2 separate regions of the Homo sapiens genome follow, and region 1 is linked to region 2. The links come from fine-mapping of genetic effects on gene expression. A gene starts in region 2. The other region holds a variant in brackets. All regions are shown on one strand. Distances are from middle to middle.

What was found.
Region 1: its variant is fine-mapped to the expression of MLXIP in whole blood (TOPMed, PIP above 0.99).

Annotation. Positions count from the first base shown.
Region 1 is chr12:122,130,895-122,136,261 of GRCh38, reverse strand. It overlaps MLXIP (MLX interacting protein), which reads right to left. Exons shown (of 17, transcript NM_014938.6): 7 at 5,329-5,367; 8 at 3,879-3,970; 9 at 2,275-2,914; 10 at 917-1,038; 11 at 596-773. Among named protein-coding and RNA genes, the nearest start is that of IL31, 41 kb to the left of the region's middle. The variant T/C (reference allele first, on the strand shown) is at 2,820.
Region 2 is chr12:122,075,909-122,081,275 of GRCh38, reverse strand. MLXIP (MLX interacting protein) reads right to left here and starts at 2,520. Exons shown (of 17, transcript NM_014938.6): 1 at 2,010-2,520. The coding sequence starts at 2,422. RefSeq lists enhancers at 21-70, 1,938-2,177, 4,245-4,294 and silencers at 2,238-2,687, 2,698-2,977.

The DNA of each region.
Region 1 (5,367 bases), 55 kb before region 2:
GAAGGGGCCCCATCTGCCCACACCCTCTACCAGCAGCACAGCCTCGGGCACACCATTTGTCCCTGATCTGGCCTGTTGGCTCCTCAGATGTCCCTGGGCAAAATCAGTCCTGCTCTGACTATCTTGCCCCTGGATGGCCTAAGAGTGGACATGGGCCACAGACCTGTAGTGCTGAGACCTGCTGGGGAAGGCCACGTTGGTGCCCAGATGAGGCTGGACGGCTTCTGTGGCCACAGCAACCCCAGGCTGATGCTCCCAGAGACAGGAAGCCCAGGGCTCCTCAATCCCTTCTCTGGGTGAGATCAGCAGCTCAGTACCAGGCCTTCGTGGGCAGTCAGCAGGGACTCCCCGAGCACACGGGTCACCTACACTGCCACATGTTCACTACTTTTTGCCCTGCCAGTGCCACCACATTTCATCCTGCCACCCACAGAGCGTGTTCCCAGACTGTGTTATCAGCAGGCCTACAAGACCTCACTGTGTGTCCTAAGCCCAGGCTCCGTCCTGGGGACCCAGCAAGCACCCCCCATGGTCTACGGCAGGCCCAGTTACTTCCCTTGCGATGCCCCAACCATCCCGCCGAGTGAACACTCACTGGGCCCTGTGACAGTGACCTGGGGGCTGCCCCCATGCAGCGGGACCTGCTCGCCCTTCCCCAGGGGGTCTTGCGCTGTGCTTGGGAAGAGCCGGGAGACGGGGGCAGGCGGGCTGCTCGTGCCATGGCCGAGATCTGTCACCAGGATGCTGCTGTGGAACTCCGGGACCCCAGGAGCCTGCAGTGACATGGGAGACAGGTCACCCCTGACTGCTGATATACAGCAGGGCGGCACACCAGTCGTCTCAGGTGAGGGCCGCCCAAGATCAGAGTGCTCCGGGGTGAGAAGGACACTGCAGGTCTGCCTAGGGCCCTCCTCACCCTGGCGATGGCAGCAGGCGCAATGACCACGTTGGACTGGGACACGGTGGAGGCCAACATCCCTTCTCTCTTCAGAGGCCCTGACGTCATGATCACCGCTTGTGGTTGGCCTGAAAAGGCAGCTGCCAGGATAAGGAGGATGTTCAGGTGCAGCCCTGGGCCACAGGGCCTGGCCCACCCTGCAGAGGCTGCCTCTCTGCCAGTGAGACAGCTTGTTCTCAACCCCAGGGGACAGGAAGACAAAGCCACCAAGGCACCTAAAACCATTTGTGTGACTTCTTGAAGGAGACATGTTATAGACCCAGGAAAGAGATGGCCAGGACCATGTTTTCACACTGTAGGTTGTGACTAACTTTAAAAAAAAGATAGAGAGGCTGGGTGCAATGGCTCACATCTGTAATCCCAGCACCTTGGGAGGCCGAGGCAGGTGGATCACCAGAGGTCAGGAGTTCGAGACCAGCCTGGCCAATGTGGTGAAACCCCATCTCTACTGAAGATACAAAATTAGCCAGGTGTGGTGGCACATGCCTGTAATCTCAGCTACTCAGGAGGATGAGGCAGGAGAATCACTTGAACCCGGGAGGCAGAGGTTGCAGTGAGCCAAGATCATGTCATCTCACTCCAGCCTGGGCAATAACAGTGAAACTCCGTCTCAAAAAAAAAAAAAAGAGAATAGAGACTGGGTGTGGGGGCTCACACCTGTAATCCCAGCACTTTGGGAGGCCAAGGTGGGCAGATCGCCTGAGATCAGGAGTTCGAGACCAGCCTGGCCAACATGGTGAAACCCCATCTCTACTAAAAATACAAAAAATTAGCTGGGTGTAGTGATGGGCGCCTGTAATCCCAGCTAACTCGGGAGGCTGAGGCAGGAGAATCACTTGAACCCAGGAGGCGGAGGTTGCAGTGAGCCGAGATCACACCACTGCACTCCAGCTAGGCGACAGAGTGAGACTCCATCTCAAAAAACAAACAAACAAACAAAAATTAGCCGAGTATAGTGGCGCACACCTGTAATCCCAACTACTCGGGAGGCTGACGAAGGAGAATCGCTTGAACCCGGGAGGGGGCGGTTGCAGTGAGCCGAGATTATGCCACTGCACTCCAGCCTGGGCAACAGAGACTGTCTCAAAAAAAAAAAAACCAAACAAAAAAACAAAAAAGATAGAGCATAGAAAACGGACTAGATCATGGCCATGTATTATTTCATGACACTTTTGTTTCATTTAAGTGTATGTGTGTGCGCATGCACGTGCACACCAGGGTGGTGGTGGTGGTCACAAGTTTGAAAGCCTTTGGGATGGGAAAACATCCCTCTGGGTCGGGGGGAGCCCCGCACTGAGTCTCCCCGCCTGGCTCACCTGGGGCGATACGGGCATTCTTCAACACCAAGGACACGGGCTCTGGTTTGGGAGCAGGCACTATTTTGTGGGGCTGCTTAGGCCTGCCCCCAGTCAAGGATACAGGTTTGGGGTGCACAAAAGTTAACCGTGGCTGGGGAGGCCGGGTGACAGGAGACAGTGCCAGCCCACAAGGGGCCGCTGACGGGGCAGGGTGATGGGTGGTGATCACAAGGCCCTGACTCTGGCTAAAGGTGGTGGCGGGGGCATCGTGGGTGAGGGTGGCAGAGGCCGTGTGGGTGATGACAGACGGCGCTTTGTTGACTCCAGCAAACTTCTGTGGCTGATGGAAGGTGGGTGGAGCCGGGGGGTTCAGGGCAGTGGCAGGAGGAGGAACTAATGGTAACACGGGGGAGATGGGCGGTGGGGCGGGGCTGGGAGACAGCAGGGGCATGGTGAAGACAGGGAGGAAGGGCTGCGGGACACTCAGTGGCGGCTCTGAGGGACCGAAGTCCGTGGGCTGGATAAACGGGTCCTCAGTCCGGGAGGTGTGTTCACAGCCCTGC[T/C]CATCCATGTGAGCCAGGGATGGGGCGGTAGGGGGCGCGATGAGGCTGTCAGGAAGGCTCACAGTGGGGAGGGCTGTGGTCGGCAGGATGCTCTCCTGAAAAAGGAAGAAAGGAGCCAGGAAGCAATGCTGGGGTCAGACAATTCCTTTCTAGCGCTGCACACTGCCAAGTCCAACTACACAGGCCGGGCGCTGGGACAGAGGGACAAAGGCCACGTCTCCACGTCCATGGCTGCTGATCTGATAGGGATTTGTGTTTCCCTGCGTGTCTGCGGGGGTCTTGTTTCCATTAAAAACTAAATAACTCAGAGCTCAGATAAGGCAACGGCCCTCACACAGCTGGCTAGCAGCCTGGGAATATCTTGTTTCTGGAGTCCAGCAGAGTCTCCCCAAAGTCTCTGCCATCTTCTATTACTGAGCAGAGGCAGCCTGGATTGCAGCTGCTCGGGAATCCCCGAGGACAATTTCACGTGTCAACTGGTCATCAGGCCACCTCTTCCTAAATAAGAAAAGCTACGAGGAATCAATGGTTCAGATCCCAGTCTCTGCAGTAGCAATTCTTCCCGGAGCCCGTTTGAAGATGGTGCCAGGTTACCAGTGTCTAACTGGTCATGGGCATAAGCATGAGGGCTCCGTAAGGACAAAGAATGGTACCTCACTCAGCTCTGTAGCCCCAAGCACCTGTAAGCAACTTTTTGGATTGCTTAGTAAAACGTGAAAGAAATATACAGAAGTTATTTTTATTAGTAATCCATGTTTTTCTTCTCTGTCTAGCTAATTCTGTGTTAATTAGTCGGAGCAGAGCTAGCTGCACATAGGTTACCTGGCACTCAGGCAGAAGCACACCTGGACCAAGAGTCTCCCACCCCATGGGTGCTGAAGGATGCTGTAAAAGAGGGATGGAATCGTGCCTCTGCACATTAGTGCTGGTCTAGCACTGCTTGGCGCTTTGCTGGTGACTGTGTGGCTATGCCATTAGCCTTGCTCTGGCAGCAAACCTTTGATGAGCAGCCCTGTGCCTGCCAGCCCCTTCCCCCACCCATCCCCCAGCTTCCTCTACCTGTGCAGGTGGGTTGTTGGGATCTGGTACAGGTGCTGAGGCAGATGCAGGTAGCATGGAGCCAAAAATGGAGCGGCTAGAAGAGAAGAGGTCTGAAAAACAACAGCAGGGGTCTTCTGAGCTCAGTGTGCCCAGCATTTGCTGGAATCAAGACTCAAACAGGGCCAGGCACGGTGGCTCATGCCTGTAATCCCAGCACTTTGGGAGGCCGAGGTAGGCAGATCATGAGGTCAAGAGATCAAGACCATCCTGGCTAACATGGTGAAACTCCATCTCTACTAAAAATACAAAAATTAGCTGGGTGTAGTGGCACATGCCTGTAGTCCCAGCTACTCAGGAGGCTGAGGCAGGAGAATGGCTTGAACCCAGGAGGCAGGGGTTGCAGTGAGCTAAGATCGCACCACTGCACTCCAGCCTGATGACAGAGCGAGATTCCCGTCTCAAAAAAAAAAAAAAAAAAAAAAAAAAAAAGGTGCCAACCACAACCACCATGCCTGGTTGGTGCCACCAGTGGTCCCAACTACACAGGAGGCTGAAGCGGAAGGATCGCTTAAGTCCAGGAGGGAGGTTGAGGGTGCAGTGAGCCGTGTTCTTGCCACTGCACTCCAGCGTGGGCTACAGAGCAAGGCTCTGTCTCAAAATAACAAAGACTAAAACAGGCTGGGTGTGATGGCTTACACCTGTAATCCCAGCACTTTGGGAAGCAGAGGCAGGAGGATCACCTGGGCAACATAGCAGACCCCCGTCTTTACAAAAAAATGAAGAAATGAACTGGGTGTGGTGGTGTGTGCCTGTAGTCCCAGGTACTCAGGAGGCTGAGGTGGGAGGATCGCTTGAGCCCAGGAGTTCAGGGCTGCAGTGAACCATGATTGAACCACTGCACTCTAGCCTGGGTGACAGTGCAAGACCCTGTCTCTAAAAAAAAAAAAAAAAAAAAAAAAAGACTCAAACAAATCAAGGACTAAACCCCTAAACCCCACATGGCCCAGGGGGATGCCATGGACAGAGGGTATTACCCTGAGACACCTTTTTTTCTGTAGAAAGGGGGCTCTGGTTGGAACCACACATGTTGGCAACTATCCTGGGCTCTGAAACACTCCCAGGCCTGACGTTTCTGCTGCTGTCACAATGGCAGGTGCTCAAGGACCCATCTAACTGCAGGGCCTTGGTAGGGAGCTGGCTGTGTCATCAGTGCCCTCTGCTGCTTCGAGGGAGAACTGCTTACAGTCACGGCTAAATCCAGAGCCAATTTCCTTGCTGAACAATGTCCCAGAAAAACTTCCCAGACCTTGCAGTTACTACAAAAAACAGTTCAGTTTAAAAAAAAATTCTTTGCTCGCCCCCTTGCCCATTCTACCAAGTCTCGCCTCTTAAAGGAAGGCAGCGATCTGCTCTGTGCTGGGCTGGGGGAGATGGAGGCAACCGTGCTCTCTCTGCCTCTGGTCCTCACCCTGGAAAGGCTCAAAGGTGTCCATGAAGTCCAGGTTAG
Region 2 (5,367 bases):
GTGGTAGACCTTAGGTGGCCGACCTTAGGCAGCAGGAGACCTTAGGCACAGGGAAAAGCAGCGAAAGTGAGAGAGCCAAGAGAGCAAGATAAGCTTCTTGCACCAAACTGATGGTGCATTTTGCAATCAAGAAAGTTAACTGAGCAACGGCCAGCTGCCAAAATATTTTTGAGAGAAATGAAAAAAAAAATGCCATTACTAAAATTATTTGGTGTTGTTTAATAAGCCTTTAGGTTATCCAAACAAGAGTGCAAAGGGGAGACTGATTTAGTTTTCATTTAGCAGAGCTTACTTAGGTGAGACCTTTCCAGTCCATGCCCCCCGTGACTCATCCATTCTCTCCCTGTATATGTAGAAGTTTATATTAAAATAAAGAAGAGGATTAAGTTTTCTTAATAAGATACATTCCAGTCTTTCACCTCGAGCTTTGTTTGAAAAGGCTCTCTCGAGGCATAGCATATGCTGCGATCCAGTCGGGTTTGATTCCAATGGAACTGCTCAAAATCAGAGACTGGAGGGCGCACAGGGCTGCAGCCTCAACACCATTTGTTTTTTAAAAAGCAGAACATCTTTACAGGCTCAGTGCCAGCTCAAACTGGCAAGACCAGAGAATCAGCAGAGACTGACCAATGTGCCGGGTAAGGGGGATGGGAGGAGGAGCTACGGGAACAGATCATCAGGGAAACCTTCAAGAGAGGAAATAGGGGTGTTTCAGGAACATAACAAAGAACAAGTTGACTAATCGTTTATTCCAGGGACCGCGGCGGTGAGGGGGGTGCCATCCAGGGCTAAGTATCTAATATTTTAACTTCAGGTAAAAGCATAACATTTAAACCTGGATATGCTTGGGGCTCACAGCTCTCTTAAAAAGGTGAGGTGAGAGGGGGCAAGATATTCCTGCTCTTTTATTACGCTGTTTATGGAGTCTCCTAGGAAACTTCTCCCGCGATGCCTCCAGAGCAGACCTAAGACAGCCCCCGCTAGTCCAGTTCCTAATGCAATAAGCTTAACTCAGCAGAGATCCCATCATGAGCTTTCTGCAGGGCCAAGCTGCTCAAGGCCGCTGCTGCCAGTCCAAAGAAGTTCTGTTGCGCAGACAAAAAAGTTACCTGCAGCAAATACCTAATATTCATAGTGGGAAAGGGAGAGAGAGTGAAAAAGCGCTTTAATCTTTGAGGGCCAGGCATTTTCTGTGACTTGGAAAAGAGGAATCTCTGCCCAGAGCCGAATCCACATGTCAGAACGGTGTCTGGGATGTCTGCCCTCAACAATGACATCTCCCTCATATAATGTTTCAGGACCGGCCAGAAAACCCTCCAACTTGCCAGAAGGACAGACTGCACCTCCAACAGCTGTGGCACCAAAAGTCTTCTTAGGAGGCACCCAAAGCCCTCCCGAGATGGGGGCGGGCCTCCCGATGAGGTTGTAAGGGGGCCAGCCTCCAGGTGCAGGGACACCTAACTCTGGCCAAGCACTGGAATAAGCAATTTACCTATCTCACTCCATCCCCACAACAGCCCCTTGGAGGCAGACACTACAGTCATTCCCCTTTTATAAAGGAGGAAACAGGCTCCGAGGTGTTACACAACCATTAAACAGCAGAGCCAGCCTCCAGTCACCCCGAACAGGTGGTCCTGACCGCTGCTGGATATGGGGGAAACACACAAAGCGTTTGGAGGAAGGAGTCGATAGAGTCGGGTAACACAAGATGCAGCCAGTGTTTATACCTCTTCCTCGTCCAACATCGGTGGTCCCAGGACACTGGAGGGGAGGGCCTGGATGGGGAACGTGAACCCGAAAGGACCCCGGCACTGCTGGCAGGGGAAGAGGCCAGGACCCCGGCTCCTCTGGCAACGCGGGGAACCCCAGATCCATAAACCCTCCCGAAGGAGGAAGACCCAAAGGGAATGCATGAAGCCACGGGGTTGCCAGGCGGCCCTTCCCTCCACGCTTGTTTTGTCAAACAAGGGCCTCCGGCCGGGGCCTCAGGGGGTCGCGGGGGTCCCTACCTGTAGGCCAAAGTCATGCACTCGAAGAGCTTGGTGAGCGAGGCGTCGATGGACAGGTGGCAGGAGCTAGTCTTGCCGAAGCTGTAGGTCTGGCACGTCTGTTTGTTGACCGTGTCGAAATCGTAGCCCTTCTTGGGCGGGTGCTCTCGGTGCGGCGACGACACCATGAAGTGGCCGCTGTGGATGATCTGCTGGCGGCGCGGAGGTTCCTCGCGGCCCGGCCCGGCCCGAGGCGGCGGTGGCGCGGCGCTCGCGTGGGCCCGGGCCGGGGTGGCCGCGCCGGAGGCGGGCGGCGGGGACGGCTCATCCGTGTCCGAGTCGTCGTCGTCCTCGGACACCTGGGGCTTGAGCAGCACCTGGCGGCCCCGGCTGCGAGGCCGGCGCGGGGAGCACATGAAGACGTCGGCGGCCATGAGAAGGGCTCGGCCGGGGGCATCCCCCGGAGCCCGGGGCAACGCGACAAGCGCGCGAGGCAGAGGGGCGCCGGCCCGGCCCGGCCCGCGCGCCGACTGTCCGCGAGCGCGCGGCGCGGCGGGAGGGGGAGGGCTCCGGCCCCGGCGTGACGTCACCGAGGCGTCTGGGCCAATCGGCTGCCCGCGTCGGCCTCTTAAAGGCGCAGGGGAACCTTTCCTTAGCTAGGCGGACCAAAAAAAAAAAAAAAGGGGAAGCGGAGGCCACGCCTCCCGGCCGTGCCCCTCGCCACCTCCTCCTCTCCCGGCGTCCGTGGGTGCTGAGGGACACGGTGGCCGGGCGGAGCGGCTCGCCGGTGTCGCGACCTGGGAGAGGCGTCGGCAGAGTGGGGCCGTGCTAGTCCCGCCCCCGCCCCGCTCCGCGCCCCGGGAGTCGCCCTGTGGCTTCGCCGCAGGCCCGGCCGGCTCCACGTGGTGGGTGCGGGTGGGGCTCCTCGGCCTCCAGGCCCTGCTTTTTCCCTGCCGGGCGGTACCGAGTCCTCGCAGCTCACGCCTGAGTTTGCCGGACGTGGTGGCTATTGTCCTCATTATTCTCATCGTATTGATGGGAACACTGGGTGGCTGAATACCGACAGGATTTTTCTCAGACCTGGAGTCCACAGAGCTGGGAACTTGCTTCCCCTGCGCGTCCCCAGCTCGGCGCAGCTGTTGAGTGGCAGCGCCCCTGAGCCCAGCGACCTCCAGACCCCAGCTCTTTTAACTTCAACTCAGCATGCTGTTGTTATTTTTTTAAAGTTTGACGGACGAGCCAGCCCCCGAAACAATTCTAAAAGGGGAGTATCTGAGCCAGAGTTTTCTTCTCTGTCAAATGGTGAACAATTCCGTTTCCTCAGAAACTTGGGACAGTTTAAAAATGGCTATAGTGGGGCGCGGTGGCTCATGCCTGTAATCCTAGCACTTTTGGAGGCCGAGGCGGGTGGATCACTTGAGGCCAGAAGTTCAAGACCAGCCAGGCCAACACGGTGAAACCCTGTCTCTACTAAAAATAACAAAAATTAGCCGGTCGTAGTGGTGCACCCCTGTAATCCCAGCTACTCGGGAGGCTGAGGCAGGAGAATCGCTTGAATCCGGGAGGTGGAGGTTGCAGTGAGCCGAGATTGCGCCATTGCACTCTAGCCTGGGCGACAGAGCGAGGCCCTGTCTCAAAAAGAAAAATAAATACAAATAAAAATGGCTATAAGTTGCTTAGCAGGCAGGCTGGCACAAAATGAGCGCTAAATAAATGTGCCACAGGTTGGAGGATTTGGATCAACCAGACCAGAGGTGCCTAGAAATTGCCAATAGTCCACCACTATTTGACCTGCAGAAACGGCAACTTCGCGTGGCACAACCTAACTGACAGACACCTCTAGAAAGCTGTCAAGGTTTCCGGGGCTCAAAGCCAGTCTGGGGTGGGGGTGGCAGGGCATCAGAAGAGCCAGTGAGGCCCATGAGCCAGGAACACCCATCCTAATCCTAGCAGGGCGTCCAGAGTCCACAGCCACTCCTGCACTCTGCTTTGTTTTATTGTTGTTTTGTTTTTTGAGACAGAGTCTTGCTCTGTCACCCAAGGCTGTAGCGCAGTGGTGCAATCACCATGTTGGCCAGGCCGGTCTGGAACTCCTGACCTCAAGTGAGGCCTGCCTTGGACTCCCAAAGTGCTGGGATGACAGGCATGAGCCACCGCGCTGGCTCTGCACTCGGCTTTGAAGCTGGTTTCAGTTCCAGATTTGAGTGGGGGGTGAGTCCCCTGCCCCACCCTCTTCCTGACAAAGGCCTCCTGAAGGGAACAGAGGGCTCTCACCAAAATGGCTCCATTAACTTATTTCCAAATGTCTGTATGGAAAAATGGGCTGGATGACTGGCAGTTTTCAGGCATGAGTTCTAGATTTCCCTCTTCAACCTACTACTGTTCCCAATGCTGGTTACAAGTGTTTAAAAGTCCATCCTTTGAGTTGCCTTCCTTTCTCTCAAGACTTGTCTCCTTGGTCCTTGGTAAGTTTACATGCCCAGCCACTTTTTTTTTTTTTTTTTTTTGAGACAGGATCTGGCTCTTTCACCTGGACTGGAGTGGAGTGGTGCCATCATGGCTCACAGCACCCTCAACCTCCAGGGCTCAGGTGATCCTCCCACCTCAACTTCCCAAGTAGCAGGACCACAGGTGCACACCACCGTGCCCTGCTAATTTTTGTACTTTTTATAGAGATGGGGTCTCGCCATGCTGCCCAGCCTGGTCTCGTCTCGAGTTCCTGACCTCAAGTGATCCTCCTGCCTCAGCCTCCCAAGGTGCTAGAATTACAGGTGTGAGCCACCATGCCCTGCTTTTTTGTCTTTGTGTTTACCTATATTTTCTTTCTTTTTTTTTTTTTTTGAGACAGGGTCTCACTGTGTCACATTGGTGTGATCGTGGCTCACTGTAGCCTCAACCTCCCCTGCCCAAGCTATCCTCCCACCTCAGTCTCCCGAGTAGCTGTGACCACAGGTGGGCACCACCACACCCAGCTAATGTTTAATTTTTTTGTAGAGATGGAATTTCCCTATGTTGCCCAGGCTGGTCTCAAACTCCTGGGCTCAGGCAATCCTCCTGCCTCAACCTCCCAAAATGCTGGGATTACAGGCATGAGCCACCACACCTGGCCTGTATTTTCTAATTTCCAAAATAAACATGTATTACTTATATACACATTTTTAACTTAAAAAGTTAACATCAGTTTCCTGGGAGGAAATAAGCCTTAAAGCTGAGGTTGCAAAGTGGCAACCCATAGACCATATTCAGTGCAGAAACATGCCTTGTTTAATCCCACCGTCAATTCCTAAGAGACTGTATTAGGGAAGACTCTTGGGGAAAATTGCAGTTAAAAATGCAAAAAGCAAAGGACCACTGCATGGGTGGTCCAGTCACGGAAGGT